Regions from separate parts of the Homo sapiens genome. Here region 2 is linked to region 1. The links come from fine-mapping of genetic effects on gene expression. A gene starts in region 1. The other region holds a variant in brackets. All regions are shown on one strand. Distances are from middle to middle.

Region 1 (14,858 bases):
ATGCTGGTCCGATTTCAAAGGAGTTTGGAAGGTGAGTTTGCTAAAGATGGGACAGAAGGAAACTGACTCTTCAAGGACTCACTCCTTCAGGAGATTGAGGACCTGCTGAGCACCCAGTGCCATGGTGCCTGCTGGGTCACCCACAGCCGTGGTCCCTGCCCCTGCGGGTTCACAGCCCAGTTGGCTGTCAGGCAACCTTAGTATGAGAAGAAGAGAGCAGGGGAGTCCCATGTGGGGATCCTGCTAGACTTCCTGGAGGAAGCACCGATGCTTGAGGGCCCCTTGCAGGGGCCCGCTGCCCCCACCAGTGTCTGCGTTTGGGGGGGCCACCAGGGGATACTGAGGCACACCCATCCCCGGCAGATAGGACTCCCTGCCCAGGGCTTCCACCCAACCTCCCTCGGGCAGGCTGGCATCGGGGTCTCCAGCCCCTCATGAAATCCTACGTTGAGTCCCATTTGGTGTCTGCCTCTTTGGGGACCTGAGCCCACAGTTTTAAGGGCCTTGAAGGAGTCAATGGGAGGAAAAGGGGAGGAGCATCTGCACAGGAGCGAGGCCCCAGCGGGTAGCATGTGTGTCGGGACGGCTGCGGGGACTCGGCCACCACCAGAGGAAGGGGATCTGTCGGGACGGCTTCGGGGACTCAGGATGACTGCCAGAGGAAGGGGACCTGTCGGGGGGCGGCTCAGGATCACCGCCAGAGGAAGGGGACCTGTCGGGGGGCAGCTTGCCGAGGGCTCAGCCTTGAACCGGGGGCCAGGGTGTGACATCAACAGGTTAATATCTTAGAGCGGGTGCCCGGGCAGAAGCCTCGCCATTCGGTATTAGCCCATAATTACTCACACTTGTCTAAAAGTCAGATGTTTTCGCTGGGTGTGGCGGCTCATGCTGGGAATCCCATCTACTCGGGAGCCTGAGACGGGGAGGATGGCCTGAGCCTGGGAGTTTGAGCCCAGCTTGGGCAACAGAGCAAGACCCCATCTAAATACATACATGCCTGTCTAAATACATGCATGCCTGTGTAAATACATGCCTGTGTAAATACATGCCTGTCTAAATACATGCCTGTCTAAATACATACATGCCTGTCTAAATACATGCCTGTCTAAACACATACATGCCTGTCTACACACATACATGCCTGTCTACATACATACATGACTGTCTACATACATACATGCCTGTCTACATACATACATGCCTGTCTAAATACATACATGCCTGTCTAAATACATGCCTGTCTCCACCTATAAAAACCGGACAGTTTTGTGGAAGAGCCACAGCTTCTCTCATGTAACCAGCGGGGACACGGCGTGGACGGGGCTCCAGTGTGAGTCCGGATGCGGGTCTGCGGCTTGTGCTTCCTGACCTGTCCCTTAGCGATAACAGTAGACCTGCTCACTGGCCGTGGGATCACCCTTCCCACCAGGGCTGCCCATTCAATCCTCACCCCGTGAGTGGCTCCCCGCATTTTCCTTACACGGAAGCAGGCCGCACCCCAGAGAGTGGGGAAGCTGGAATCACCATGCAGGGTGCCCTGGAGCCCCCATCCCCCAGTCAGGGGCCCCCGTGGTTCTCCTTCATGGCTTCCTTTTTTTTGAGACGGAGTCTCACTCTGTCGCCCAGGCTGGAGTGCCGTGACGGGATCTCAGCTCACTACAACCTCTGCCTCCTGGGTTCAAGTGATTCTTCTGCCTCAGCCTCCTGAGTAGCTGGGATTACAGGCGCACACCACCATGCCTGGCTAATTTTCCTATTTTTAGTAGAGATGCGGTTTCACCATGTTGTTCAGGTTGGTCTCGAACTCCTGACCTCAGGTGATCCGCCTGTCTCAGCCCCCCAAAGTGCTGAGATTACATACTTGAGCCACTGTGCCCGGCCACGGCTTCCTTTTCTTTCACGCCGCAACTGCACCAGGGCAATGGTTCTTGCCAAGGCCAAGGTTGGCTTTGCCTCCACGCCTGCTGGTCTGGTGCGGCACTGTTTTGGTGCGGGACTGTTTTCAGGAGAGCATTGGCTCCTGAGAGCCAGGCCTGGGAGGCCTGTCCTGTCTAATTGGGCCCTCATGACTGCCCTTCAAAGGTAAGTCATGAAGGCCGGACACAGTGGCTCACACCTGTAATCCCAGCACTTTGGGAGGCTGAGGCAGGCAGATCACCTGAGGCCAGGAGTTCGAGACCAGCCTGGCCAACATGGCGAAACCCCGTCTCTACTAAAAGTACAAAAAGCCAGGCTTGGAGGCATGTGCCTGTAATCTCAGCACTTTGGAAGTCTGCGGCAAGCAGATTGCTTGAGCCCAGGAGTTCGAGACCAGCCTCGGCAACATGGGGAAACCCCATCTCTATATCTAAAAAAGCGTATAAAGAAAAAAATTAATTTCGTAAAAAAAATAAAGGTAGGTTGTGGAGAAGCTAAGGCTCAGGAGGGGCGGGCAGGTTGCCTGGAGGCTCCTGGGATGTCCACACAGCTCTGCCACATGTCATGTGCAGGGTCCCACGGCCACCCGCCTTGAAGGCGATGCCGAAACGGGCATATAATTGAGACTGGCCCCCCAGTGCCCTCCCGAGGTCCTCCTTCACAGCCGCCTGGCAGCCGGTAACAACACAGACCAAGGCTAAGCACCTCCGCCATCCAGCTAGCTCCTGTGCTGTAAATCAGATGGCGGCAGCTGTGGAAGGGCCCCGGCCCTCTGCTTTCTGGGCCCGCTCCCAGCCTCATCACTCCTGAGCAGCCCCTGCTCCAGCGAGGAGCTCTGTGGAGCCAGCTGTGGTTGCAGGCAGGGCCATCTGCTTTGGGGATTGCTGCTCCTTTAGGAGGATGAGCTGCCTGTGGTTTTTACCCAGAGATCCAGCTGGAATCGCAGCTCCCAGACACTCACGGCTCACTGTGAGTGATGAACACGGGGCCCATGGCAGCCGCTGCGGCCGAGACAGTGGACAGTGTTCACTCTTTAAGGCGATGCCCTTGCGCCCACACAGTGCGACGTCCAGCACTGTTTTCTGCTCAGCTGCGAGGGAATCTCCCCAAGCCTCCCCACCACCCCCTTTTCCTAAGTGGACCTGGGGGCCTTGGAGGTCAAGAAGAGCCAGTGGGGGCCCTGTTCTTGGCTGTCATTTCAAGCGGCTTCTCCAGGGGGTTGACAGAGCCCTGGGCCCACGTGGACGGATGATGACAAATGACCTGCGGAGGGAGACGGTGGCACGTGGGGACCAGCGGAGTGAGCTGGCCTCGGCTATCTTGTTGAGTGCCTGGGAATGGAATTGGAACAGGAGGCCCGGTAAGTGACTGGAAGACTGGAATGAGGGCCTGACCGATGGGAATGAACCAGAGACAGCGGAATGATGTGCAGATGACTGAGGGAGGCACCCTGCCACGCTGGTTTTATAGTTTGGCATCGCAGCGAGAAAAACAACAAACCCCGTCTTGTGTGTGGTGAGGGGTGGCTCCGGCAGAGAGTGAGGATGCGTGAATTCCAAAACAACTGTGAGAAGACCAAAGGCGCCAGAGCTCTGGGGATTCAGATTCGCTTTCAGAAATAATGCCGGGTGCGAGGCTCACGCCTGTAATCCCAACGCTTTGGGAGGCCGAGGCGGGAGGATGGTCTGAGCCAGGGAGGCAGAGGTTGCAGTGAACCCAGATCATGCCACTGTACTCCAGGCTGGGTGACACAGCGAGACCCTGTCTCCAAAAAAAAAAAAAAAAAGAAGAAGCAAGAAAGAAGCACACATCTGGGGATGTTTTGATGAAGACTCTGCTCTCGTGGGCCCCAGAACACCCCGAAATAGGCTGCACGAAGCCGTGAGCCCCGGCACCTGAAGGCGCGAAGCTGGGCTGGGAGTTGCTCACTGGCAAGGTGGGTGTCAGCCTGAGGAGGGCAGAGGTCAGCTGCCCCTAGCTGGGCATGATTTAGGACACAGGACGGGAGGGGGCACTGGGTCTGGAAGGAAAGGCAGGGGAGGGAGGGAGGGGTCTCCAAGGAAAGGGAAGCCAGCAGTGCTGTTCCTAAGCAGGATTCCATGGAACTCGCAGACAGGACTTGGGACACGCACCTGCCCTGCCCGTCTGACCTCACCCCGCCCACCCAGGAGGGGAAGCGCCGTGGAGGCCACTTCACAGGAGGGAAGATCAGGGTCCAGGGCCATGCTTGACGCCCCCCACCCAAGGTTTAGCCCAGGAAGGGGGAACAAACCGCAGCTCCAACCCTGCCCCCCACCCATTAGCCAGGGGCCTGCAGCTCCTGACTCAGCTTCCCCCATCAAACAGGGGCTCGTCCTGCCCCACCCGGGTGGGAGACCCAACCTTCCAGGCCCACAGGAGCTCGTGCGTGCGTCTCACGTTCCAGTCACCCGGGTAGCAGGCGTGCGTGGGCAGGGGCAGAGCTTGGTGGCGATCCGTGTCCCGACACCCTCAGGCTCCCGAATGGGACTTTTCAGGGGTGAGGGGGCCAAAGAAGGGGAGGCAGGGGCTGCGTCACTCGTGAAGGGGCATCGGGACCCCAGCCCACTTGTGGTCCCACGTCTGAAATCCACCGGACAGGGAGATTGGTCCAGGCTCACACCCGCTGGGATGGCAGGAGGCAGGGGTGGCACGTGGACAGATGTGGGTCCCAAAATCCGGGCAGGGGGGAAGGTGGAGGGTGTGGTCCGTGCCAGCTGTACCCAGGCAGGTAGGGCTGGCTGGGTGGGGAGGGGGTGGGGCTGGGAGGAGTTCCTGGGTCTGGGGAGAGGCCACTGCTCAGGAGCAATCATCTCTCAGGGACCCAGGCTGCCCGCCGCTGTGAGGAGGCGGCAGCAGAGGCCAGGAGGCCGGGGGCCGAGCTTCAGGCCCACCCCGCCTTGGCCCCCCCCTCAGGCCCAGAGACCTGCAGCCAACCTGCCTGACAGGCTGAGCGCCACCAGGGAGGTGAGCTGCGTGGGTGTGGGAGTGCGAGAGTGTGTGTGTGGGGGAAGGGGGTGCATACCAGAGGGGTATGGTGTCCAGGCTGAGCCCCTGCACTTCAATGGGGTGGGGGGCTCCTCGAAAAAAAAAACATACCTTGAAATTCGGAGAATCACAGTCCGCCAACCCCTAAGCCTCACCGCCACCTCAGAGGCTGGGCCCCAGGACGGCACCTGGACACCAAACAGGGTCTCCAGCCAGCCTGGCAAGTCCAGGCCAGACGAGCACCCCCCATCCTGGCTCCAGATGAAAGGGTGCCCCCGACCCGTACACGCCCAGGGCTGGCAGCTCCCTCAGGTGAAGGCAAGTATAGGCAGGCCCTGGGTGACTTTCTGGGGATGGGGGCAACAGAGGGACCAGGGACAGGAGCAGGGAGGTGGGGGCTTGGCCCCGGAGGACAGGACGGGAGACCTATGGGAGGAAGAGAGCAGATCCTTGGGACGGCCCCACCCTGGGATCTGGGGCTGATGGGCTCAGGCAGAACAGAATTGCTCGAGAGTCAGAAGCTGAGGCAAGCGCCCCCCTATGACCTGCCAGGTCGCCAGGTCAGCTGAGACAGTGGAGCTGAGTCCCAGGGCCTGGCCAGGCTGGCTCTCCCATGCAGCAGCCTACGTCCCTAGAAGGGCAGATGACAGGGAGGCCAACCTGAGGCCCTGGCCCGGCCTCCCTGACCTGCCGCATAGCTCTTGCCGGTGGAGACAGGCCCAGGCTGGCATAGGCTCTGCCTGAGGTCACAGACACCTCACACAGCCAGAGCCAGGCCCCAGCTTGTGGCATGTGGTCCAGGGCCTGCTCCTCCTGGCTGTGGGGGCTGCTCCCCGGCCCCAGTGAGGAGGGGGCATGTGGGTCACCAGGAGGCCATGCTGCCTGCCCGCCCCACGCGGCTCTCAGGAGGCCGTGCCCGTGGACAGGAGCCGGGGGAATCCCAGAAGCAGAGCCGGGAGGATGTGGAGCCCCATCCCTGTCACCCCCTGCTCACACCCGGGGCTGCTGCCTTGGTGAACTGCTGGCCAGGGCCCCCAGGGGAGGGCCGCGGGACCTGGGAAGCCGGGTGTCTGAGATGGGTGCCCACCGGTCACCTCATCCCCCTAGTGTGCAGCTCAGCCTGGGACATCAAATGAGCCAGCCCTGAGGAGGCGGCTCCTGGGCGCCCCGAGTTCCACCCAGCAGTGAAGGAGGCAGGCAGGGGGGTACACCATGCCTGTCCGCATCTGCAGAGAGACGGGCAGGCAGGGGGTCGGGGTGGGCACTAGCAGGGCAGCCGGCCTGGAACCAGGCAACAGCTCATGGGCCCTCAGCCGGGTTTCTCATGAGAGCAGGAGGAGGTGGCTGTGCCAGGGCCAGGGTGTGGGACTGGCTGGGCGGCTTCTCAGCCTCCCCACAGCTCTGGGCACCTGGACGCAGTGAACAATGGTCAGAGGGCCCCGTCGCCTGGATCTGGGCAGACAGGTCTGTCCTGCAATGGGCTTGGTCAGTGTCCCGCCCCCGCCAGAAAAATCAGGCCCAGCCGGCCCTGCCGCCTCCTGTGACCGGGCGCAGAGGCTGTGACACCAGCACCGGGTGAGGCCTCGATCAGCCGGCGAGCCCTGTGAGCAGGTGGCAGAGCGGTCAACCTCCCGACTGCCCCTCCCTGGGGACCAGGCCCTGCTCCTGACATCCCCAGACCAGTACACTTGGTCCACGGTTCCCGAGCTGGCGCATCTGGCTCAGCCGGGACAGCTGTGGGCTGAGGAGATCAGCAGGCCTCCCTGTCCAGTGCCCAGCTGGCCCTGTGAGAAAACCCCACCTTTTTCCACAGAGGATCTGCCTCTGGCGGAAGACAGAGCTTTGGAGGTCCCTCAGTCTGTGTCCGGGGCCCAAGCCCTGAGCCTGCCCGAAGCCAGAGCCCTCCCAGAAGCCTGGCTCTGCTGGCTCCAGCCAAAACGGTCCTGCTGACATCTAGCCACAGTGCCTCCTGCTGTCTGCACAGCCATTCCCACCGTCAGCCCAGGGAGGGGCCCGAGGCTTCATCCTGTGCTGGGGGCTGGACGCAAATCAAGCAGGGGCTGGGGCCTCAGTTTCCCTGCCTGTAGCATGAGCGAGTTGGATGAGGGGATTCCCGGTCCCTTCCAGCTCTGCGCATGCCCAGGCACCAAAGTCTTCACCCTTCAAACGGGCCCCCAGCCATCGTCACTTCATAGTTGTCCGTGACGGTGATCCCGACACAGCCAGAGGGCGACATCCACACGCGCTGAGCCGACTGCCTGGGGCTCTGCAGGCCGGGTGGGAGGCCGGCAGGAGTACCTGTGGCTGCAGTGGGAATGCAGCTGGATGGAAGTTGGGGACCGCCTTCCAGCACCCCTGCCTGGCCAAAGGGAGACCTTAGCCCACAGGGTCACCGCCTCAGCAGGACAGCCCCCACCCCGCAAGCCCTGTGCCCCGAGCATGGACAGGGCACAGCTCTAGGCTCTGGCAGCTCCTGCAGAGGGAGGACCAGCAGCAAACACAGACAGGTGGACAGGGAGTCACACACACAGTGAGGAGGGTGATGGGACAGCGGGGATGGTCTCTCCAGAGGTGACGCCTGAGGCTGCAGGACAGAGTCACCCGGGAGCAGGGTCGGTTGGTCCAGAAGGTCCCTGCCTGGGGAGCAGGCAGGCTCCAGGAGGGCCCAGCCAGGGTGTGCATGCTGTGGCTCTGGGCCCGGGCCCGGGTGGGCGCTGATGGGGAGGTTAGGCAAGGCGGGCCTGAGAGCTGGGCACGACTTCCTGAGCTTGTTCCCCACCTGGGAGCCTCCCTGGAGGGACAGTGTCAGTGGAGGAGTTGGGAAAAGCAGGCAGGGTGTCCCAGGGAAGGATGGGCCTCAGCCCGGGCCCCTCACGGACCCCTCAAGGATGCTGGACGCGTTGATGCGCCTCTCGTTCCCATCTCTAAAAGGGGAACAGGCCGGACGTGGTGGCTCAAACCTGTAATCCCAGCACTTTGGGAGGCTGAGGCGGGCAGATCACCTGAGGTCAGGAGTTCAAGCCCAGCCTGGCCAACGTGGTGAAACCCCGTCTTTACTAAAAATACAAAAATTAGCTAGGTGTGGTGGTGGGCGCCTGTAATCCCAGCTACTCGGGAGGCTGAGGCAGGAGAATCACTTGAACCCAGGAGGCGGAGGTTGCAGTGAGCCGAGATCGCGCCATTGTACTCCAGCCTGGCGACAGAGCGAGGCTCCGTCTCAAAAAATAAATTAATTAAAAATAAAAGGGGAACAGTGGCTCCAGTCATTCCAGCCTCAACCCCTTGAGCCCTGTTGCTCAGGGCTGTGGGAGGGTAGGAGATATGAAGGACAAGGAGTGTGTGGATCCGTTGCGGGCATGGAGCGGGACTTGGTAATGGTGGCCCCAGCGGCATGAGCCCAAGCGTAACCAGAACAGGACAAGAGGTGGGCTGAGGGCCCACATCCCTCTCCCAGGAGCCGGGGTGAGTGAGTTTTTTCTCCACAGGGGCCTCTGCATGGGGGTGACAGGGACCCTCAGGGCCCCGCAACCCCTTGCCAGACCCCAAAGGGTCCAGGGACTGGGCTGTCACTCCCCCTCTCCTGCCTTGATCCACAAAAACCAGAAATATTTCCTTTTTTTTTTTTTTTTTTTTTTGGACACAGAGTCTCCCTCTGTCCCCAGGCTGGAGTGCAGTGGTGTGATCTCAGCTTACTGCAACCTCCGCCTTCTGAGTTCAAGCGATTCTCCTGTCTCAGCCTCTTGAGTATCTGGAATTACAGGTGCACGCTGCCACACCTAGCTAATTTTTGCGTATTTCGTAGAGACGGCGTTTCACCATGTTGGCCAGGCTGGTCTCGAACTCCTGACCTCAAGTGATCCACCCACCTTGGCCTCCCAAAGTGTGGGGATGACAGGCGTGAGCCACCACGCCCGGCCCAGAAAACAAATGTTTTCAACTCATCTCTTGGGGCGTGGATTTTTTTTTTAATTCAGATGAAATTCACATAACATCAATTTACCCAGGTTTAAGTGAACGATTCGGTGGCGGTAAGTATATCCACAGTGCTGTGTGCCTGCCGCCTCTACCTCATTTCAGGACTCCTGTCACCCCCCAGAGAAACCCTGTACCATTAGCTCTCCACCCCTCCTCCTGCAGCCCGGCCCTCCTTGGCCTGCCGCAGACCTCTCCCACGTGTCCCCACCAGGTGGCAGCTGCCTGGCCGTCTGGCATAGGCAGGTGAGGGCGCCAGGCGGCCAGCAGGTTCCTGGGAGCCAGCTGCCACCCAGCAAACAACCGGGAGGATAGGGTGTCAGCCGTGGGAGGGGACAGGAGGGGACGGGCCTGCAGCCTGGGGCCCAGGTGGGCCACTGGGGACGTGAGGCACTGGCCGCCCCGCCCCAGCCTGGCACAGCCCTTCAGATCCTGGCCTTGCCGCACCCACAGTGGGGCCTCCAGTTGGGGCCACGTGGCCATGAGAATGACCAGCTAGGCTTCCCTGGAGGCCAGGCCTCCCTGGACTGGGCCAGGTGCTTCCTGCCAGCAAAGGTAGAGCTGGGCCCTGTGACCGCAGACCAGAGGGAGAGGAGGAGGCTGGACTGGGCTGCGAGTGTGGGAGAGGGTGGACTCAGGGCCCCAGCAGGTTAGTGGGAGATGGAACAGGCACCCAGGGCTGCCAAGAACCCCAGCAAAGCCGGGCTCCCAGGTGGGTGGACAGGTCCCAGAGCCAGTGAGGGCCGGCTCCTCCCATGAGGGTGGCTGCACACCCCCTCCTGCCGGGGCAGGCAGTGCTGGTCTGCGCCCGCTCCCCAGCCCTCCCGGGCAGGCAGGGCGGCAGGGGTTCCCCCTCTTCTGCCCCACTGGAAGACGGTCTTTGTCCCCTAAGAAGCAGGCTCCCTGCAAGCCTGAGACTCGGAGTTGGAAGCTGGTTTTACAAGGGGGAATTGAGGTGGGACCCTCAGGTCGCAGGTGGTTGATGGGTGAGCTTCGATGGCTGAGCTCGGAGCAGGGAGGGAGCCGGGCCTGGCGCTGGTGTCCGTGTGGGGGGTGCGGCCTGGTGGGTGGCTCAGCCTCAGCTCCCGTCTCACTGTCTCCTCCCTCCCCCGCTGCTTCCTGCTGCCGGGAGCCAGTACCTTTGCCCTCACTCCTCCCGGTGTGTGTCCTCCCTCCCTCTGCAGATGAGTAATGTCTCAGGGATCCTGGAGACAGCCGGCGTCCCCCTGGTGTCAGCGAACTGGCCGCAGCCCAGCCCCCCACCGGCTGTGCCAGCTGGGCCGCAGATGGACCACATGGGGAACAGCTCCCAGGGGGCCCCCTGGCTCTTCCTCACCTCCGCACTGGCCCGAGGCGTCTCGGGGATCTTCGTGTGGACTGCCCTGGTGCTCACCTGCCACCAGGTAAGCCCTTCCGCCCCCGAGCCTCCTTCAGGACCTTGGTCTCCACAGGACGTGGCCGTGGCTCAGCCCGGTCCCCCTGGGTGCCGCTGCTATAGACGCTGTCAGAAGTGGGATCGGCCAGGGCACGGGGGAGGGGATGAGCTTCCCCAGGATGTGGCATGTGGGAGCTGGGCCTGAAAATGGGGAGATCTCTGCCAGGCTGAGGGCAGAGCGCCCACCGGGCACCCCTGGCTATTTCACAGGCTCGTCACTCGGCTCACTGAGGTCTGCAGTGTGGTCCCATTTCACAGACAAGAAGACTGAGTCTCAGAGAGACCAGAGGTCTTTCCCAGGCTCACATAGCTGGAAAGGGGAAGGGGCCTTCTCCTTCCAGAGGCGTGACACCCTGGAGAAGGCTGGTGGGAGGTTGGCAGGGGGTTGGACTTTGCTCTGTAGGGAGCTGGGGAGCAAAGGTCACAGCTTGTTAGAGGGACCGGGACTCCTGTGCAGGAGATGGGCGAGAAGCAACTTCCCCAAGCCCGAAGCCACACACAGCCCCCGACCCGGAGCAGTCCCCAGGTGGGAACAGAACAGCCCCCAGGTAGAGAAGCGGCCAGGCGCTGTGGCAAGGAAGGGCCAGGCAGGGGCAAGGAGGAAGTGGTGCCCGAGGGCAGGGGCTGGGCAGAGAGGGCAGGGAGTCAGGGACAGGACCCTCCTGAGAGACTCAGATACACAGAGAGGCCAGGGCGGTGTGCGCAGGGGTGGGGTGGGAGTGCGTGTGTAGGCCCGCGAGGGCCACACGGCTGCAGGGATTTGTCCAGAGCCCTTGACCCCAGTGCGGTGAGGTGGCTTTCAGGGGGTGCTGGGAGCCCAGGAAGGCTGTGGAGGGCTGGGCTGAGGGCAGAGCTGCTTCCCGGGTGCACGGGGCACTGGTGTAGGGAATGGATCTGTAGGTGAGCTGGGGCAGGGGGCCATCAGGAGACTGGCAGGCAGGGACACCGGTGGCCACAAGTCTCCGAGGGAGCATCTCAGTGACAGTTTATTAACTGCTTATTAGCCGGGCATGGGGGCCTGCACTGTTAGTCCCAGCTACTTGGGAGGCTGAGATGGGAGGATCGCTTGAGCCCAGTTCAAGGTTGCAGTGAGCTGTGAACAGATAACCAGAACCCACGGTAGACGTGTATGAGTGTGGCCTGGAGTGTGCAGAGCCGCGGAGGCAGTGCCGAGGCAGGCCCTTCCTGTAAGGCCATCAGAGAGGGCTTCCCGGAGGAGGCCGTCTTTCCGCTGTAATCCTGGGAACCGGCTGTGTGTGCGCGGCTGTAGTGTGGCTTTAGCTTCATGGGGCCTCGCAGTCAAGACAGGGCTCATGGAGACCCCTTGGGCTGGAGTTCAGGCCCTGTCCCACCCCTGAGCCCACCGCCAGAGTCACCCTTGAGTGAGGAGTCCCAGGCAGGACACAGAGTGGCTGGATCCCCCTCACTTTATACATGGGAGGACCGAGGCCGGAGAGGACAGTGGCTTGTCAAGGTCACCCAGCCAGGCAGCGCCAGCCCCGGGAGAGGTCTCCTGATGGCTGGTCATGCCGTCCCTCCCAGGGACCATCGGGGAGCGTGTGACTGATAAGAGTCTGTTCCTGCCTCCAACCTCCCCCAACTCCCTGAGCTGCACCCCAAGCGGCCAGGTGCACGTAGCCTCTGCTCGCCCACCGCCACGCATGCACCTCCTCCAGAAGGCCTTCCCCAGGAGCCCCTGTGCGCCCAGCTCCCAGGCTCGGCTGACCCTGTCTCAAAGACCCTGTAGTTGAGTTGTATCCTCACAGAAAACATGGAAAATCGGTCAGGCGTGGTGTCTCACACCTGTAATCCCAGCATTGTGGGAGGCCAAGGCGGGTGGATCACCCGAGGTCAAGAGTTTGAGACCAGCCTGGCCAACATGGGGAAACTCTGTCTCTACTAAAAATACAAAAATTAGCCGGGCATGGTGGTGCGCGCCTATAATCCCAGCTACTCAGGAGGCTGAGGCAGGAGAATCACTTGAACCCGGGAGGCGGAGGTTGCAGTGAGTTGAGATTGCGCCACTGCACCCCAGCCTGGGCAACAGAGCAAGACTCCGTCTCAATAAAAAAAATAATAATTAAAAATTAAAAAAAATAAAAACGTGGAAAATCTAGAAAGGTTTAAAGGCAAACACTACTATAATCACCCATACTTTTTCCCAGGCTTTCTTTTTTTTTAGGCAGGATCTCACTCTGTGACCCAGGCTGCAGTCCGGTGGCACAATCAGTGCTCACTGCAGCCTCCGCTTCCCGGATTTAAGCCATCCTCCCACCTCAGCCTCCCGAGTAGCTGGGACTGCAGGCGCCCGCCACCACGCCTGGCTAATTTTTGTATTTTTTAGTAGAGATGGAGTTCGCCCTGTTGACCAGGCCGGTCTCGAACTCCTGAGCTCAGGTAATCCGCCCACCTTGGCCTCCCAAAGTGCTAAGATTACAGGCGTGGGCCACCGTGCCTGGCCCCTAGGGAGGGACAAATTCTTAGGAATCAAAGGGTGCACATCCTTTGGATGCCCCCACAGCAAAAGCCAATGTGCCTTCTGAGAGTCTGCCCAGCCCAGGACCGGGACGTGTCCCCTCTCCGTCCCCCGGGTTGGACACTTAGCTGGGCTCTAGAAACGCCTGCTGAATGAAGGAATGAGTGAGCGTTCCCATTCCCAGGCTAAGAACAAACAGGACCCTCACTCATGCCCAAGGAACTTATTCAGAAAAAAAAAAAAAAAAAACCTATTGTACAACATGGTGACTGTTATAAATAACAATGTATTCTATGCTTGAAAATTGCCAAGAGAGTACATTTTACATGTCCTCCCCGCAAAGAAATGCTAAGTATGGGAGATAATGGAGACGTTAATGGGTTTGACTCAGCCATTCCCCACGAACACACATATCAGACATCGCGCTGCACACTGTAAATGCATACAATTTTGATTTGCCAATTTAAAAAATAAATTTTAGGCCAGGTGCAGTGGCTCATGACTATAGTCCCAGCACTTTGGGAGACGGAGGCAGGAGGATCCCTTGAGCCTAGGACTTTGAGACCAGCCTGGGCAACACAGTGAGACCCTGTCTGTACAAAAAATACAAAAATTAGCCAGGCAAGGTGGTGCACACCTGTAGTCCCAATACTCAGCAGGCTGAGGTAGGCAGATCACTCGAGCCCGGGAGTTCAAGGCTGCAGTGAGCCATGATTGTACCACTGCACTCCAGTCTGGGCGACAGAGCGAGACCCTGTCTCAAAAAAAACCTGGGCAAGAGAGCGAGACCATGTTTCTCAAAAAAATATTTTTTTTTTTTTGAGAAAGGGTCTCGCTCTGTCGCCCAGGCTGGAGTGCAGTGGCGCAATCTTGGTTCACCGCAACCTCCACCTCCCAGGCTCAAGCGATTCTCCTGCCTCAGCCTCTCTAGTAGCTGGGATTACAGGCGCGCGCCACCATGCCTGGCTAATTTTTGTGTATTTAGTAGAGACTGTGTTTCACCATGTTGGCCAGGCTGGTCTTGAACTCCTGACCTCAAATGATCCACCCACCTCGGCCTCCCAAAGTGCTGGGATTATAGGTGTGAGCCACTGCACCCGGCCATAAAAAGTCAATTATTCAAATGTGTATTATTTTTAGTTGTAACCAGAAATATGTATTTAACATATACATTCATACTTATATGTACTTCTATAGTAAATACGTATAAAAGTATGTATCTAATTACAATAGGCAAACAATTTATTTTCTCTAATTGTAATAAGGATGCCCATTGTAGAAAACTAGAAAATGCAAACATAGAAGGTGCCTGGTGGCCTGCACCCACCCCCACCTCCTTCCCGGCTCACCTGGGCTTGTGCAGGGGTACCAGGCGGACCCGGCTCTCACCCGAACCCTCCTGCGCCCACCCCCACCTCCTTCCCGGCTCACCTGGGCTTGTGCAGGGGTACCAGGCGGACCTGGCTCTCACCCGAACCCTCCTGCGCCCACCCCCACCTCCTTCCCGGCTCACCTGGGCTGGTGCAGGGGTACCGGGTGGACCCGGCTCTCACGCGAACCCTCCTGCGCCCAGGGCGGGCCCGGCTCTCACGCGAACCCTCCTGCGCCCACCCCCACCTCCTTCCCGGCTCACCTGGGCTTGTGCAGGGGTACCGGGTGGACCTGGCTCTCACCCAAACCCTCCTGCACCCACCCCCACCTCCTTCCCGGCTCACCTGGGCTGGTCCAGGGGTACCAGGCGGGCCCGGCTCTCATGCGACCCCTCCTGCGCCCAGATCTATCTGCACCTGCGCTCCTACACCGTGCCACAGGAGCAACGTTACATCATCCGCCTGCTCCTCATCGTGCCCATCTACGCCTTCGACTCCTGGCTCAGCCTCCTCCTCCTCGGAGACCACCAGTACTACGTCTACTTCGACTCTGTGCGGGACTGCTACGAAGGTGGGCGCCAGGCTGCGTCAGGTCGGGGGAGCGGAGGGAGAGACTCCCCGGGGCCTGCGTGCACGCACACTCTTCCATGGCCAGTCCCCAGGGCACCCCACTCTCCCGGCC
Region 2 (14,858 bases), 200 kb after region 1:
CTGCAACCTCCACCTCCCGGGTTCGGGCAATTCTCCCACCTCAGCCTCCCGAGTAGCTGGGACTACAGGCATGCATCACCATGCCAGGCTAATTTTGTAGTTTTAGTGGAGACGGGGTTTTGCCATGTTGGCCAGGCTGGTCTCGATCTCCTGACCTCAGGCGATCCGCCCACCTTGGCCTCCCAAAGTGCTGGGATTATAGGTATGAGCCATCGCGCCAGGCCAGGTACATTTTTCATCACACAAAATGAGTGTATAAAAATCACAGCTTCTCACTGCTTTCGGCGTGCCGGCCAGCCTGCAGGGATCTGCTGAGCGCCCGGTGTGTCTGGCCCCATGGGAGGGAGCTGGACTGTGTTCCCAACTCCCTGAGGGTGGAGGCTCATATCTGACCACACAATCGGATGCTGGCCTGGGTCAGGGCACACACCCCTCAGCGTCCCTTGGGCGGGTCTTCACGCAGAAGCAGCCCCGGTTGGAGGGATGTGAGGCCTGAGAGGGGACTGGCACCCTGGGGCAGGACCAGCCTGGGCCCAGTGTGGGGGCTGGAGTCGCTGTGCCTGGGGCACTGGCAGAGGGGTCCCTGGCTAGAAAGTCTGTGAAGTCCCTTGGAGGGGAGACGGGGCTGAGGAAGGAAAGTGGGGGAAGGGGGAGGTGGGTTTTTTTGCTGGAAACCCCCACTCAGGGCAACCCCAGCTTGGAGGGTAGAGGATCGAATTAAATCCTGTTCATGAAATCCCACCCAGCTCTCCCACGGACCCCAATTCACTAATAATGGGGGATGGAAGGACACGGGCCTGCCCTATTTCCCATTTGATTCAAATGGGATTGAATTTTTTTAATCCTATAATAAAGTGACAATTTCCATTTTCCCAGGCAATTCATTTTCACAAAATGACCAGGGTCACGACCTGCTCTGCAAAAATCAGCACTCCGTGATTAAATCAAATCTGTAAGACGAGTTTTCCCAGAGATGCTTCCCGGCGTGGGGCCCGGTGGCCGGCTCCGGCTGTTAGACGTCAGCCAGGGGCCCTGGGGGCTGCAGGCTGCTCTCCCAAAACCCGGGCAGGTCTCAGCACCAGCCAAGCGACCTAGCTTCTCTGGCCTCAGCCTCCTCATCTCTGAAACCAGGATACTCTAGTCCCTCCCTCCTGGGGAGGGGGTGAGAATCGAATGAGACACGGCACCAAGGCCTCCCTCCATGTTGATTGTTCCACTGGTTATTCTTTTTAGAAGTGTTTATTTGTGTTTCAGAGTTGGGGTCTTGCTCTGTCACCCAGGCTGCAATGCAATGACGTGATCATGGTCCTCTGCAGCCTCCAATTCCTGGGCTCAAGCAATTCTGCCGATCCTGCCGCCTCAGCCTCCCGAGCCGCTGGGACGACAGGCAGGCGCCACCACGCCTGGCAAATTTTATTTTATTATATAGAAATGGGATCTTGCTGTGTTGTCCAGCCTGGTCTTGAACTCTGGGGCTCGAATGGTGCTCTCTCCTCAGCCTCCCAAAGTGCTGGGACTACAGGCGTGAGCTGCCATACCCAGCCTGATGATTATTTTTAATAATCTTATTATTATTATCTGAGGGACTCAGCCTTTGAGGCTGGATCTTGGGAAGCTCCTGCCCCCCTCAGGCTCCCTCCTGGGGCCCCAGGTCACCGTGACCCCCAGACTGGGGGCAGTGGATCCTCTTTGTCTCCATGGACACTACACCTAGGGACAAGCTGGGCCCCTCTCCCTGGAAATGGCCTCATGGGGACCTGCAGTCCAGCTCTGTCCCAGGGGGCCGGGGCCCTCTGCAGGCACCCAGCACTTCCAGGGCACCTGTGCAGGCCTTCCCGTAGCCAGAAATCAACATGAACCAGTGCCAGGGTGAGACTGTGGCCCTGTTGTATCAATAATTCCGATTTCCAGCACTTTGCAATCATTATTATCCCATTTGACAGATGGGGACAGTGATAGGCTCAGAGGGGCCAGGCAGCTGCCCAAGGCCAGTAAGTGGTGAAGCTGGGGTGGGGTCCAGGAAGCCTGGCCCCAGCCTCCCAGGTGGCCTGCCCAGGTTCCCTGCGAGCCTTCTCTCGTGGGGCCCCAGTGCAACCCTCAGAGGCAGGGCCCCAGAATCCCCGCTGCTCCCAGAGGGGTTGGGCCCATGCCCACTTCACAGCGGTGCCGCTGAGCCCTTGGGCGGCCCGGTGAGGGTGGCTCTGGCCTGGCCCCAGCTCTCTGCCCTTTGATGGGGGGTGCCCCAGGGGAACCTGCATTCTCCCCAACTTCCTGGTTCAGGGCCTTCCTGCTGCAGCCTCCCCACTCACCCAGCAGGTGCAGGGCTGAGGCCATGTTCACCGTGGTGTCCTGTGCCACCTTCCGGGAGGTCTCCGTCCTCTCCCCTCAGCTGGACTGAGGCTGTAGACGATTCAGAGCGATGGTGGGGAGGATCCTGGGTCCTGGATGACTTCGTGGAGCAGAGTCAGGTTGGCTGGGCTGCACTGAGTGCCCACCGCCCCCAGCACTGACCCCAGCCTCCAACACAGATGCAGACCCTTCATGCACACCTTTGGGAGTGAGCAACAGGCCATTAGAGTGTCTGGACCCGGGATGTGGGGCGTCTGGACCCAGGGTGTGGGGCGTCTGGACCTATGACGTGGGGCGTCTGGACCCGGGGCGTGGGGCATCTGTACCTAGGATGTGGGGCATCTGTACCTGGGACATGGGGCATCTGGACCCCGGGCGTGAGGTGTCTGTACCCGGGACATGGGGCATCTGGACCTGGGGTGTGGGGCGTCTGTACATCCTTAAACAGTGCTCCGTAGCCATCTGATGGACCAGCAGAGGAGAGGGGGTTCGTGGGGAGCCCCTGGGGCTCAGCAGAGGCAGAGAGGCTTGGAATGGGCTGAGGGTCTTCTCAGAAGTAGCCAGTCATGTCCTGGGGCCAGGTGGGGAGGCTACAATCCCTAGGAGAGGAGGCCCCCAAGGGGCTGGTCCTCACCCACCCTGTGCTGCCTCAGTCTCCCCACCTCCCTCCTGGTGGGCCCCACACCCACAGATCAGCTCTTCTCGGGGTGTTTTTCTAGCAGGGTGGGAGACAGGATCTGAGGAGACCTGTACCCCAGCCCTGCCCTGGCGTCATGGGCGTTGTCTCAGCTGCCCAGCCCCACCCCGGGCCACACCATGAAATCGAAATGGTGCCTCTAATGTGGGCACAGTCCAGGATCCCTGGGGGTGGCCCCTCACTCATTCCATTCAGCAAAAACTTCCTGACACCTGGCCAGGCATGGTAGCTCACGCCTGTAATCCCAGCACTTTGGGAGGCCAGGGCAGACGGATCACCTGAGGTCAGGAGTTTGAGACCAGCCTGGCCAACATGGTGAAACCCCATCTCTACTAAAAATACAAAAAAATTACCCGGGTATGGTGACACACGTTTGTAGTCTGAGCTACTTGGGAGGCTGAGATGGGAGCATCGCTTGAACCCTGGAGGTAGAGGTTGCAGAGAGCTGAGATTGCACCACTGCATCCCAGCCAGGGTGACAGAGTGAGACTTTGTCTCTCCCAAATAAAAGCAAAAACAAAAAACAAACAAAAAAAAACTTCCCGTCACCTGCCCCGAACCATGCCTTGGACTGCGCCCTAGGAGCCAGAGACAAGGTGGGGTGTGACCCAGGCCTGCCCGAGGGGCTCACGGCGGACTTCACAGTGGATGTCACAGCGGACTTCTCCCCTCAGCTCTGCAGCTCCCGGGAGAGCACATGCGGTGGGGATTTCCAGGAGAGGTGGGTTTGAGCTTTGGTGGGGCAGGGATGTGCCTGCAGGCTCAGGGAGGGGCCCTGGGGACCTTCAGGGTCCGTGTCGTCGGCCTGGGCTCAGGGTTTGATCAGTGAGGTCAGAACCACATAAAGGGGGCCCAAGAGGGCTGCCCACCCAGGCACTGCAGCCAGGGACCCCCACCCCTCTGGGAACCCCTCCTGCCCCTCTGGGAACCCCTACTGCCTCCTCCTGCCCCAGGAATCCACCATTTTCCTGCAAGGTGGGGACACAGAGTGGTCAGAGGGCTCAGCAATGTTCGCTACTGTGGTGTTTGTCTAAGCAATGGATGAATCCTGAGAGTGCCCAGGTGTTCTCCACAGGACGGGGGAGGAAACTGAGGCACAGGGGGGTGGAGTCACTGTCTCAAGGCTGCAGGGCAGAGAAGCAGAGGGTGGGGTTGAGCCTCGGCTCCCAGCACCCCCCCTCCACCCATCACCTACCTGGCTGCAGGCTCCAGGCCTGGTCTCTGCCTGTTTAACTCGGGAATGATCTGGCCTGTGGGTCACTGGCGCTGTGAGGTCTCCCGGGCCTGGGGGGACGGCGCCATCCTGTAAAGCCCCCACTTTAATTAGTGCGAAGCCGCCTGGCGTGCCGGCTGCCCTAGATGCTGGTAATTAAAGCAGGAGGGGCCGTGGCCGGAGGAGGCAGTCAGGGCGCCGCTGTCGCAGGAGGCCGACGGCTTTGGGGTGGGTGGGAGGGGCTGGGGCCACACGCATTGAGTTTTCATAAAAGAGAGCACCTGTTCATGTGACCACCTGGGAAGGTCAGCGCCCAAGTCGTGGGTTGGGGGTCTGTGTCTGGGATTCCTGGCCTCGGGCAAAACCAGCCTCTGGGGAGATGCTCCGTATGGGGTCACAGCAGGGACTGCCCGGCTCTGCCTCAGTTTCCTCCCAGGCTCAGGAAGAGGCTGCAGGAGGCTCTGGGGTACTTCTGCCTCTGCCTGTGAGGGAGTGTGGGGCCGGGTTGTAAGGACTTTGGGGTTGCACACACCTGGGCATGAGCCCTGGCTCCATGTGCCGCCTGGGGCCTCAGCGTCCTCATCTGGAAAATGGGGAGAACCCAGTCTCCCACCCGGGTTCCTATGAGGCCTCCGAGAGAAGGTGTTGCAGACGTGTGAGGCGGCAAATGGAGAGGCCCGTAGGGGAGGAAGGGCTGAGACACATCGGGCTCCACAGAGGCGGCTGTGGATCGCTGCTCCCCGTGGGCGGGCTCACGGCCCCTCCCAGTTTATAGCCTTGGGTCTCGGCCCACAGCCCATCTCTCCACTCGCCCCGTGACAGTCCCACCCAGGCCCTCCCTGGGCTCCAACCTCTTCTAAGCAGCTCCCCACCCTCCCTGGGTGTCCCGTGGCCCCTCGTGGGGCCCCCCAGTCTGCTCCTTCAGGTTCCTCCACTCCCAGCTGCAGTGCTGCCCCGTCCAGTAGACCTCCAGGGCTCCATTCCTGCAGGCACTGCATACCTACTGTGTGCTGAGGAAATGCCTACTGTGTGCTGCACGCCTGTTATGTGTTGATGACACAATTGTCGTGTGCTGAGGATTTACCTACTGTGCGCTAAAGATTTATCTACTGTGTGCTGAGGATTTACCTACTGTGCGCTAAAGATTTATCTAGTGTGTGCTGAGGATTTACCTACTGTGTGCTGAGGATTTACCTACTGTGCACTAAAGATTTATCTACTGTGTGCTGAGGAAATGCCTACTGTGCGCTAAAGATTTGTCTACTGTGTGCTGAGGATTTACCTACTGTGTGCTGAGGATTTACCTATTATGTGCTGAGGATTTACCTACTGTGTGCTGAGGATTTACCCACTATGTGCTGAGGATTTACCTACTGTGCGCTAAAGATTTATCTAGTGTGTGCTGAGGATTTACCTACTGTGTGCTGAGGATTTACCTACTATGTGCTGAGGATTTACCTACTGTGCGCTAAAGATTTATCTAGTGTGTGCTGAGGATTTACCTACTGTGTGCTGAGGATTTACCTACTATGTGCTGAGGATTCACCTACTGTGCGCTGAAGATTTATCTACTGTGTGCTGAGGATTTACCTACTGTGTGCTGAGGATTTACCTACTATGTGCTGAGGATTGACCTACTGTGTGCTAAAGATTTATCTAGTGTGTGCTGAGGATTTACCTACTGTGTGCTGCACACCTACTATGTGTTGCTGACACGATTGTCCTGAACTGAAGCTGAAGCTATGCTTACTGTGCGCTGAAGATTTACCTACTGTGTGCTGAGGACACTGCAGGGACCACGACAGACACATTCCTGTCCTCACATTGCTCACGGACAGGCAGTGACCAGATACACACATGTCCATGATAATAACGCAGGTGACAGGCACCGCAAAGGAAAATGAAGGCCAGGTGCGGTGGCTCACGCCTGTCATCCCAGCACTTGGGGAGGCTGAGGCAGGCGGATCACTTGAGGTCAGGAGTTTGAGACCAGCCTGGGCAACATAGTGAGACTAAAAAAAGTTAGCTCGGCACGGTGGCATGTGCCTGTAATCCCAGCTACTTGGGAGGCTGAGATGGGAGAAACCATTGAGCCCAGGAGGTCGAGGTTGCAGTGAGCCGAGGCCACACCACTGCACTCCAGCGTGGATGACACAGTAAGACCCTGTCAAAAAAAAAAAAAAAAAAAGGAAGGAAGGAAGGAAGAAGGAAGGAAGGAAGGAAGAAAACAAAAGAAGCAGGTAAAATTAATTTTAATAATGTGTTTTATGTAATTCAACCTATCCCAAATACTATCATTTGCCGTGGAATCACAATGTTGAGAAGTTTTACACTTTCTTTGGCACTGTGTCTTTGGGACTTTGGGATCTGGATGGGTTTCATGTTTTTGGGGCATCTTGACGTGGGCTGACGGAGAATGGCAGAGGCAGGCGGCACCTGCAGATCCCGGAGGAGCCTGGGCTCTATTCCAGGGGCACTCAGGAGCCATGGAGGGTTTGGAGCAGGAGGGACATGGTTGTGTTAACCTTTGAGAACCACCTGAGAAGCTGAGTGGAGGACGGACTTCAGGGCTGTTGAGGACAAGGCGGGAGGCAGCAAGGAGATGGCGTGAACGGTGACCCAGGTGACCACAGAGAGGAGGCGTCAGGCCTGGGTGCCTTGGTGGGGTAAGGGGTGTGGAAAGAGCAGAGTTGGGGGCTCTTGGGCGCTGGCCAGGAGTCCCTGGGAGGGTGGAGGTGACTGTCCAGCTGGGCAGGGGGCAGCAGAGGGGCAGCTCCCGATGTCGAGGGGCCCTTCTGGGGCAGCCCCTGCCCTGCCTGTCGGGCCAAACTCACAGAACCCCATAGGGGCTGGCTGACATGCAGAGGACACCGCCCAGACTGGTGTGGCTGCCGCCCCTTCCTGCTGGAATGGTGGGCGGGGCGGGCGAGGCTTCAGGGAGCGTTGTGCCAGCAGGAGGAACAGCCATGCAGGGTCACAGAGGAGCCAGTGGCTGCCACGGGCTGCAGTGGGGAGCGAGGCTGGCCAGGCCCCAGGAGCCTCGCAGGGTCCAGGGTGTCCTATCTAAGTGCAATGGTCAGTCACTGCCATGGGGCTGACTCGGGCTGACGGAATGAGATTGGTGCATAGAAAACTTCCCTCCGGCCTCGGCAGACGGATTCCAGGCTTCCCTCATGCCAGAGGGGCCGCAGGGGTGTAAGGGAAGCGGCTGGAGGTGGGTGCATGGAGCTCAGGAGGGAGCCAGGGGCCATCTGGCTGCAGG[G/C]TCAGGTGGCCAGGCTGTTAGTGGGGCCGTGGAGGGAGAAGAGGGTTTGGAGGGCATCCCTGCCAAGCCCTCCTAGGCCTGGTGTCCAGGGTGAGGGTCAGTGTGACACCGCCCATCCGCAGGCCTTCCCTCCCGCCTGCACCGCGCCCACCTCACCCACCTCACCATGCCGCAGCTAACACTGTCAGCTGGTAATTGTCCTGGTCCCTTTATCCTGCGCTTTAATAAATAATTTACCTGAATTATTCACATGGAAATTTCAACATTATTAAAAATTAACCAACTTAAATGAGTCCATGGTAAATAGCTGGGTGGCTCTTCCCAGGCTGGATGCCGAAGACCGGGACGGGGGCAGCCCCGAGGGGAGGGGCGGCAGGTGCAGGGCAGGTGAGCAGGGGGTGGGGATAGGCGGGCCTGCGGGGCCGACAGGGCCAGACCCACCCTTGGGAGCAGCCCCAAGGCAGCTTGGAGACAGAAGCCCTGTGCCCCTGACCCCTCACAGTCTGGGCAGCCTCAGGAAAGTATGCACCGCTCTGGGCCATTCGTGCAATGGGATGGCCCCCACTTGCTCAGAGGACTGTGGAGAGGGCCGGGCGAGGAGGGTAACCAGGGGCAACGTGGGATGGTGAGCAAGGAGCCTGCTTCCGTCTAGAAAGCAAATGCACTCTCCCGCCTGGCTGGGCCATGCACGGAAGTGCTTCCCGGCTCAGTGGGCATCAGCAGAGGAGCTCCCTGGGCATGGTGGGCCGTCCTGGGTATGGGGCGTCCTCAGCACCTGCAAGGCCTGGACACAGAGTGCTGAGCAAGGGGTGAGGGAGCTGATGCTTTGCTATAACCGTTTCCCAAGCATTTTCCTTAACATCTCTGCACAGAATGGCACCCCAGCGCCTGCGTCACTGAAGTCAACGTCCTGTGCAGCTTTATTCATTGTGATTAAAGGGTGGAATTGAAGGGTGCTAGGCTTTGGGGAAACATTCTAGATATCTAAACTAGTTGCTGTTTGCAAAATCGTCTTCACCAAACAGAGGTGCTGGGTGCAAATGATTTGGGGTCGGCGTGGCGCCTATGGACAGGGCAGCGGAGAAACCGTACTTGCCCGGTGAGCTGCAGAGGCCTGGGCTCAGAGAGCCTCGCCGGGAACCTGCCCCTGCCTGCACTGTCACCAACACCATGGCCATACAGGATCCCCGACAGGCCTGTGCCTCAGGCACCTCCATGTCGCAGGTGACAAAGCTTAGACACAGGAGGAAACAGATTGCCCTGCAAGGAAACGAGCCAGGGTTTGGACACAGGTGGCTCACGCCTGTAATCCCAGCACTTTGGGAGGCTGAGGCGGGCAGATCATTGGAGGTGAGTGAGAAGTTCAAAACCGGCCTGGCCAACATGGTGAAACCCCGTCTTTACTAAAAATACAAAAATTAACTGGGTGTGGTGGCGGGCACCTGTAATCTCAGCTACTCAGGAGGCTGAGGCAGGTGAATCGCTTGAACCCAGGAGGCAGGGGTTGCAATGAGGTGAGATTACACCACTGCACTCCAGCTTGGGTGACAGAGTGAGACTCTGTCTCAAAAAAAAAAAAAAAAAAAAAAGCAAAATTAAAAATGTGTAGTTGGCCAGGGACAGGGCCCGAGGTTCTGCATTTGTGACCAACTAGAGCAGAATAAGACAAGGTCTTGTTGATGGTGGCCGCTCCATGGCCCACATTTAAATCATGCCCTTTATCCCACCATATCCCGAGTCCCGAATCCAGCCCACGGCCACAGGGTGCTGTCTCTGCACACCACTCCCATCTCCTTCAGCCTGGGACCCTCAGCCTTTCTTCATCTTTTCTGCAATTAACATTTTCAAAAAGTCCAGGCAGGATATTTGTAGAATGTCCATCAATTCGGGTTTGTCTAACGTTCCTCTCGATTTCAATTTATTTTTATTATTATTTTGTTTTGAGACGGGGTCTTGCTCTGTTGCCCAGGCTGGAGTGCAGTGGCACAATCTCAGCTCACTGCCACCTCCACCTCCTGGATTCAAGCGCGTCTTCTGCCTCAGCTTCCCGAGTAGCTGGGATTACAGGCGCACACTACCATGCCCGGCTTATTTTTCTACTTTTTTTTTTTCTTTTTTTTTTTGTAGAGACGGGATTTCACCATGTTGGCCAGGCTGGTCTTGAACTCCTGACCTCAGGTGATCTGTCCACCTCGGCCTCCCAAAGTGCTGGGATGACAGGCGTGAGCCACCGCGCGCGGCTGACAGTTGATTTTTTTGGAAACCCCAGGTCTGCTGTTCAGAGCCCAGTGGGTGGGGAAGGCGGTGGGCAGGGGACATGCCGCGCGGAAGCTGCTGCGGGGTCTCCTGCCCGCCGCCGCCACCCAGGCCGAGGTGCAGACGGAGGATTTAATTGAACAGGGCAGTCACACCTCACCTGGAGCGCCTCACAACCCTTTGGGGTGGAGGAGAGGCTCCTTCACCTGCCTCGAGCCTGACTTGAAGTTAATAAAATCCCGGCCAAAGGATGACCTCGAAGCCGGTTCCCTGTCCTCCTGAAGGCCGCGGCAAGGCCCCTCATAAAAGGTTATTAAGGAAAGTAAATAACTCAGCCTGTGGGGGAGGCTTCCTGGCAGAGGCATTGGGGGCCCTGGGAGAAGGCGAGGGCCTGGACCTGTGTGCCGGTGGCCGAGAGTGATGGGGGCCTGGGCCCTGCCTGTAGCTATCCATGTAGGGAGGGGTGGGGTAGGGTGGGCGGTGGCTGCCCAGATTCCTCTTGGAAGCTCTGGTTATAAACCTGAGCATAGAATGTACAGGTTGGGGCAAACGTGGGCTCCTTTGGGGCCCTCTGGGGTTTACATCCCTCTGGGACGCAGCGGGAGCTTAGCCTGGGGAGGTCCTGGCCCTGTACTGGGGGCATGGTGTGGAGCTGGGGGCGGGGGCCTGCACCTGTGGGGCCGCTGCACTGGCTCAGCACGTCGGGCGTGCGTGTTAGGGCAGGAGGCCCGGCCGCAGCGGCTCCCCTGCTCAGGGAATGGCCTCTTCTCTCTTTGGAGTTTGAGGCCCCAAAGGCCTCAGGGGCAGCATTAGGGTCTTGTCCTAAAGGACTCTCCAGGAGCTGTGGGTTGGGATCCCGTGGGAGGCCCGTATGCTGCCCAGGGGACTGGGGACTCCCCTGTGTGACTTGCAGGGCAGAGACAAACCCTCAGTACCTTCCAAGCCTCTGTGTGCTCACCTACAGGTGGGGATGGTCAGCAGAGACGCGGGAGGGAGCAAACTGGAAAGCGCGGCACCCATCGGGGTCGGCAGCCATAGCTCATGGGACGCAGGATGGACGCCCTGAGCCTGGGCGCTGAGCCGCCATCTGCTCTGGGCCAGCTCGGTCAGCCCCGAGTCCCCCTGCAGATCTTGGCTCACCACAGCCGAGGGCCTCCAGGCCTGTCCCGAGACCACCAGGAATGGGCCCCTCCCAGCCTCCAGTGGCCGGGCAGCTTGGGTGGCCCCAACTGAGGGCCAGGGGACTCCAGCGGCTGTGGCCTTTCCCTCAGCTGCCCCTCGCCCCCACCCCCTACTAAGATTTCAAAACTTACTACAAAGCTGCAGTAATGAACACAGTGTGGTCCTGGGGTAAAGACACGCATGCAGATTAAGGGAATAAAAGAAAATTCAGAGACCAGAAATAAACACACTCGTTCACTGATTTTTTCCAACAAGGGCATTCAATGGGCGTTTTCCACAGACGGTGCTGGGACAACTGGACGTCCACAGGCAAGAGTGTGAAGGTGGACTCGGCCTCACACCACATGCAAAAATTAACTCAAAATAGGTCACAGGGGCCAGACGCAGAGGCTCACACCTGTAATCCCAGCACTTTGGGAGGCTGAGGTGGGAGGATCGCTGGAGCCCAGGAGTTTGAGGCTGCAGTGAGCTATGATCATGCCACTGCACTCCAGTCTGCATGATATGGCAAGACTCTATCTTTATAAAAAACTTAAAAATTAGCTGAACGTGGTGGCACACGCCTGTAGTTCCAGCCACTCAGGAAGCTGAAGTGGGAGGATCACCTGCGCCCGGGAAGCCTTGACTTCATGGGCTTGACTTGAGGCCCAGAGACTGAGTATCCCCAGCCCTGAGGTCAGCAAGTGGGCGGGTATGGATGAGCTATTATCACGCCACTGCACTCCAGCCTGGGTGATACAGTGAGACCCTGTGTAAAAAAAAAAAAAAAAAGAAAAGAAAAAGATCACAGACCTAAACGTAAGAGCTGAAGCTATAAAGCTCTGAAAACAAAACACAGGAGTAAATCTTTGTGATCTTGGGTTAGACCAAGCCTTCCTAGATATGATATGAAAGTCACGAGAGAAAAAAGAAAAACAGAGATACACTGGACTTCATCAAAATTAGAAGGCTTTGTGCTTCAAAGGACATCGTCAAGAAAGTGAAAAAAACCACCTGCAAAACGGGAGAACATTTTTGCAAAACGTATTTCTGATAAGACACTTATGTCTAAAATATATAAAGAACTATTGTAACTCAATAACAAAGAAACACATAGCCCGATTTTTGAAATAAGCAAAGGATTTGAGGAGACACTTCTCCAAAGATGATATAAAAATGGCCAATAAGCACAGGAAGATACTCACCATCAGCCATCACGAAAACACAAATTAAAATGAGATGGCCCCTCATACCCACTAGGACGGTTAAAATAAAGCAGACAGATATTGACAAGTATTGGTGAGGAGGAGAAATTGGAAAGTCAGAACTCCAGCACACTGCTGGTAGGCAGGGAAAAAGGTTGCATCCACTTTGACAAACAGTTTGGGAGTTTTTTCTTTTTCTTTTCTTCTTTCTTTTTGTTTATTTTGAGATTGGGTCTTGCTGTTGCCCAGGCTGGAATGCAGTGGTACAATCACAGATCACTGCAGCCTTGAACTCCTGGACTCAAGCGATCCTCCCATGTTAGCCTCTTGAGGACCTGAGACCACAGATGTGCACCACCATGCCCGGCTAATTTTATTTTTTTATTCTTTTATTTTTTTGAGACAGAGTCTCAGTCTGTCACCCAGGCTGGAGTGCAGTAGCACGATCTCGGCTCACTGCAACCTCTGCCTCCCAGGTTCAAGCAATTCTCCTGTCTCAGCCTCCCGAGTAGCTGGGATTACAGGTGTGCACCACCATGCCCAGCTAATTTTTGTGTTTTTAGTAGAGACAGGGTTTTACCATGTTGGCCAGGCTGGTCTCGAACTCCTGACCTTAGGTGATCCAACTGCCTCAGCCTCCCAAAGTGCTGGGATGATTTTTTAAATTTTCAGTAGAGACACAGTCTTGCTATGTTGCCCAGGCTGGTCTTGAACTCCTGGGCTCAAGCGATCTTCCCACCTCAGCCTCCCAAAGTACTGGGATGACAGTCGTGAGCCACCACCCCCAGCTGGTTTGGGAGATTTTAAAAATGTTCAATGTGGAATTACCATAAGACCCAACGATCTCACTCCCACGTATCTACCCAGGAAAAACGAAGACATTACTCCAGCTCTGTTTTGATTAAAAATAATACTTCTTATTATAAAAAGAAAAAAATAAAGACACACATCCACATAAAAGCCTGTGCACACATGTTCGTAGAAGTATTATTGTCTCCAAACGAGGTGAAGGTGAAAGGAAAAAAAACATCTGTTGTGCTGTAGGGCCGGATGCCTCGTGATAACCCCAAGGGCTTGGAGCACCTCACTGACCCCCGCCCGGGGCTGGGCAGAATGGGGCAGGAATCACAGCCAGGGCAGTGGCCCCCGAGTCCCCTGATGCCACGCACAGACCACCAGGTGCTGTATCCGCGTCTCCCAACAGACCTGCAAGCTCAGGATCAGGATTCCATTGTTCAGATGGAGAAACTGAGGCTCAAAGAGGGGAGGGGGCTCGTCCAAGGCAGTCAGGAGAGGAGCCAGGGCTGGGACCAGCCTGGTCGGCCCCCAGGTCCCCACTCATTCCGTGGACAGCCAGCATGCAGGATGAGGGGCAGGTGTTTATCACGGAGACAGGCCTCCCCAGCTGGCCTCGGCCGGCGTACCACCTCTCCATGGGCCCAGTGACAGCCGTGGCTGGTGGGTCTCAGTCTCCCCACCTGTAACATGGGAGAGTGGGACTGGAGGACCCTGGAGCCCCTTTGGGGTCCAAGAATGGCAGGAAGGACCAGAGGCCACGGAAAGCCCTACCCAGCCTCTTCTGGGGGCCCAGCAGGCTCAGCCACAGCTGCCCCAGCTCCACCCACCCACTTGCTGATCTCGGGGCTGGAGATAGTCTTGGGCCTCAACTTTCCCACCTATAAAATGAGAACAGCAGCAATTGTGTTTACCTGGCTTCGTGGCGTGGCTCGCGAAGCCAGCACCAGCTCAGCGCTCCTGAGACGCTCTTATTCTCTTCCAGGTCTCCCAGAGCTAGAGGTTTTCCCGGCAGCTCCAAGCGAGGCTTCCTGAGAGTTCGAGGCGGTGCAGAGAGACCACCCTGGGGAACCGGCCATCTCCAGAAACCGGGGAACCATCCGTGGTGTGGGCCCAGCAAGGCCCCCTTCCCAGCGTGGCTGACTTCGCCTCTGAATTAATCTGGATTTTTAAGTGCAATTAAAGAGGTAATCGGGGTCAGAGCGCTTTTAAAACACAGTTTAGCACAAAATCCTAATGCAGGAATTACACCAGTGGAGATTGTCAATACAATGGATTCCCACCAAGGGCACTAAACGAGGGTGCACCCGGGCTGCGCGCCGGGAGGGGCTGGGCTAATTCAGCAGGGCCTCGCCGAGGCAGGCCGGGAGACAGAGCTGCACGGAGGCCTCTGCATCCTGCTCATTACCGGGGAGCCTGGAACACGCTTCAGAGAATTCATTAGGGAAAGAAAACGGTAAAATTTGAAGTTATTTGTAAATCTGACGGGGAAGCCATGCATCACTTCTCAGAAGGAAGTGTGTCGATTCCAGACGGAGCTGATGGTGGGTGGGGGCGGGGTGAGGGGCTCTGGGAGGCAGAGTCTGCAGGCCAGCAGGACCCCCGCTTAGGGCCATGGCGGAGCCTCCCCGAGTCCCAGCCTCTATCTGCATTGCAGTGGGTTGGTGGGTGGTAGCCCTGTTCCCATGGAGCTCACAGAACCAGACGGGGCAGGAGCACAGAGAGGGCAGGCCCTTGCCCACCGTCACACAGCAAGGGCACAGCCAGCCGGGAGCCCAGCTCCCCGCAAGGTCTGCAGGGAGGGCAGGGGCTCAGCAGCAGGTTCACCTTGTGCTGGAGACTCCAGCTGGGGCAGCCCTGCCTGCACGCGGAGGCAGGAGGTTGGGGGAAGAATCGGGAGGCCCGGCTCCCTCTTCTCCT

The links. PIP is the estimated chance that this variant, and not a neighbour inherited with it, causes the effect.
Region 2: its variant is the best candidate, but not a certain one, in a credible set for the expression of TMEM184A in prostate (GTEx, PIP 0.88).

What each region holds. Positions count from the first base shown.
Region 1 is chr7:1,550,706-1,565,563 of GRCh38, reverse strand. It overlaps TMEM184A (transmembrane protein 184A), which reads left to right and starts at 9,359. Exons shown (of 9, transcript NM_001097620.2): 1 at 9,359-9,450; 2 at 10,080-10,298; 3 at 14,582-14,747. The coding sequence starts at 10,080. RefSeq lists enhancers at 4,715-5,215, 5,216-5,716, 8,941-9,740, 9,877-10,171, 9,741-10,541 and silencers at 9,084-9,173, 9,214-9,283, 10,651-10,833.
Region 2 is chr7:1,348,098-1,362,955 of GRCh38, reverse strand. No RefSeq gene overlaps it. Among named protein-coding and RNA genes, the nearest start is that of MICALL2, 100 kb to the left of the region's middle. RefSeq lists silencers at 5,065-5,114, 11,577-11,777. The variant G/C (reference allele first, on the strand shown) is at 7,522.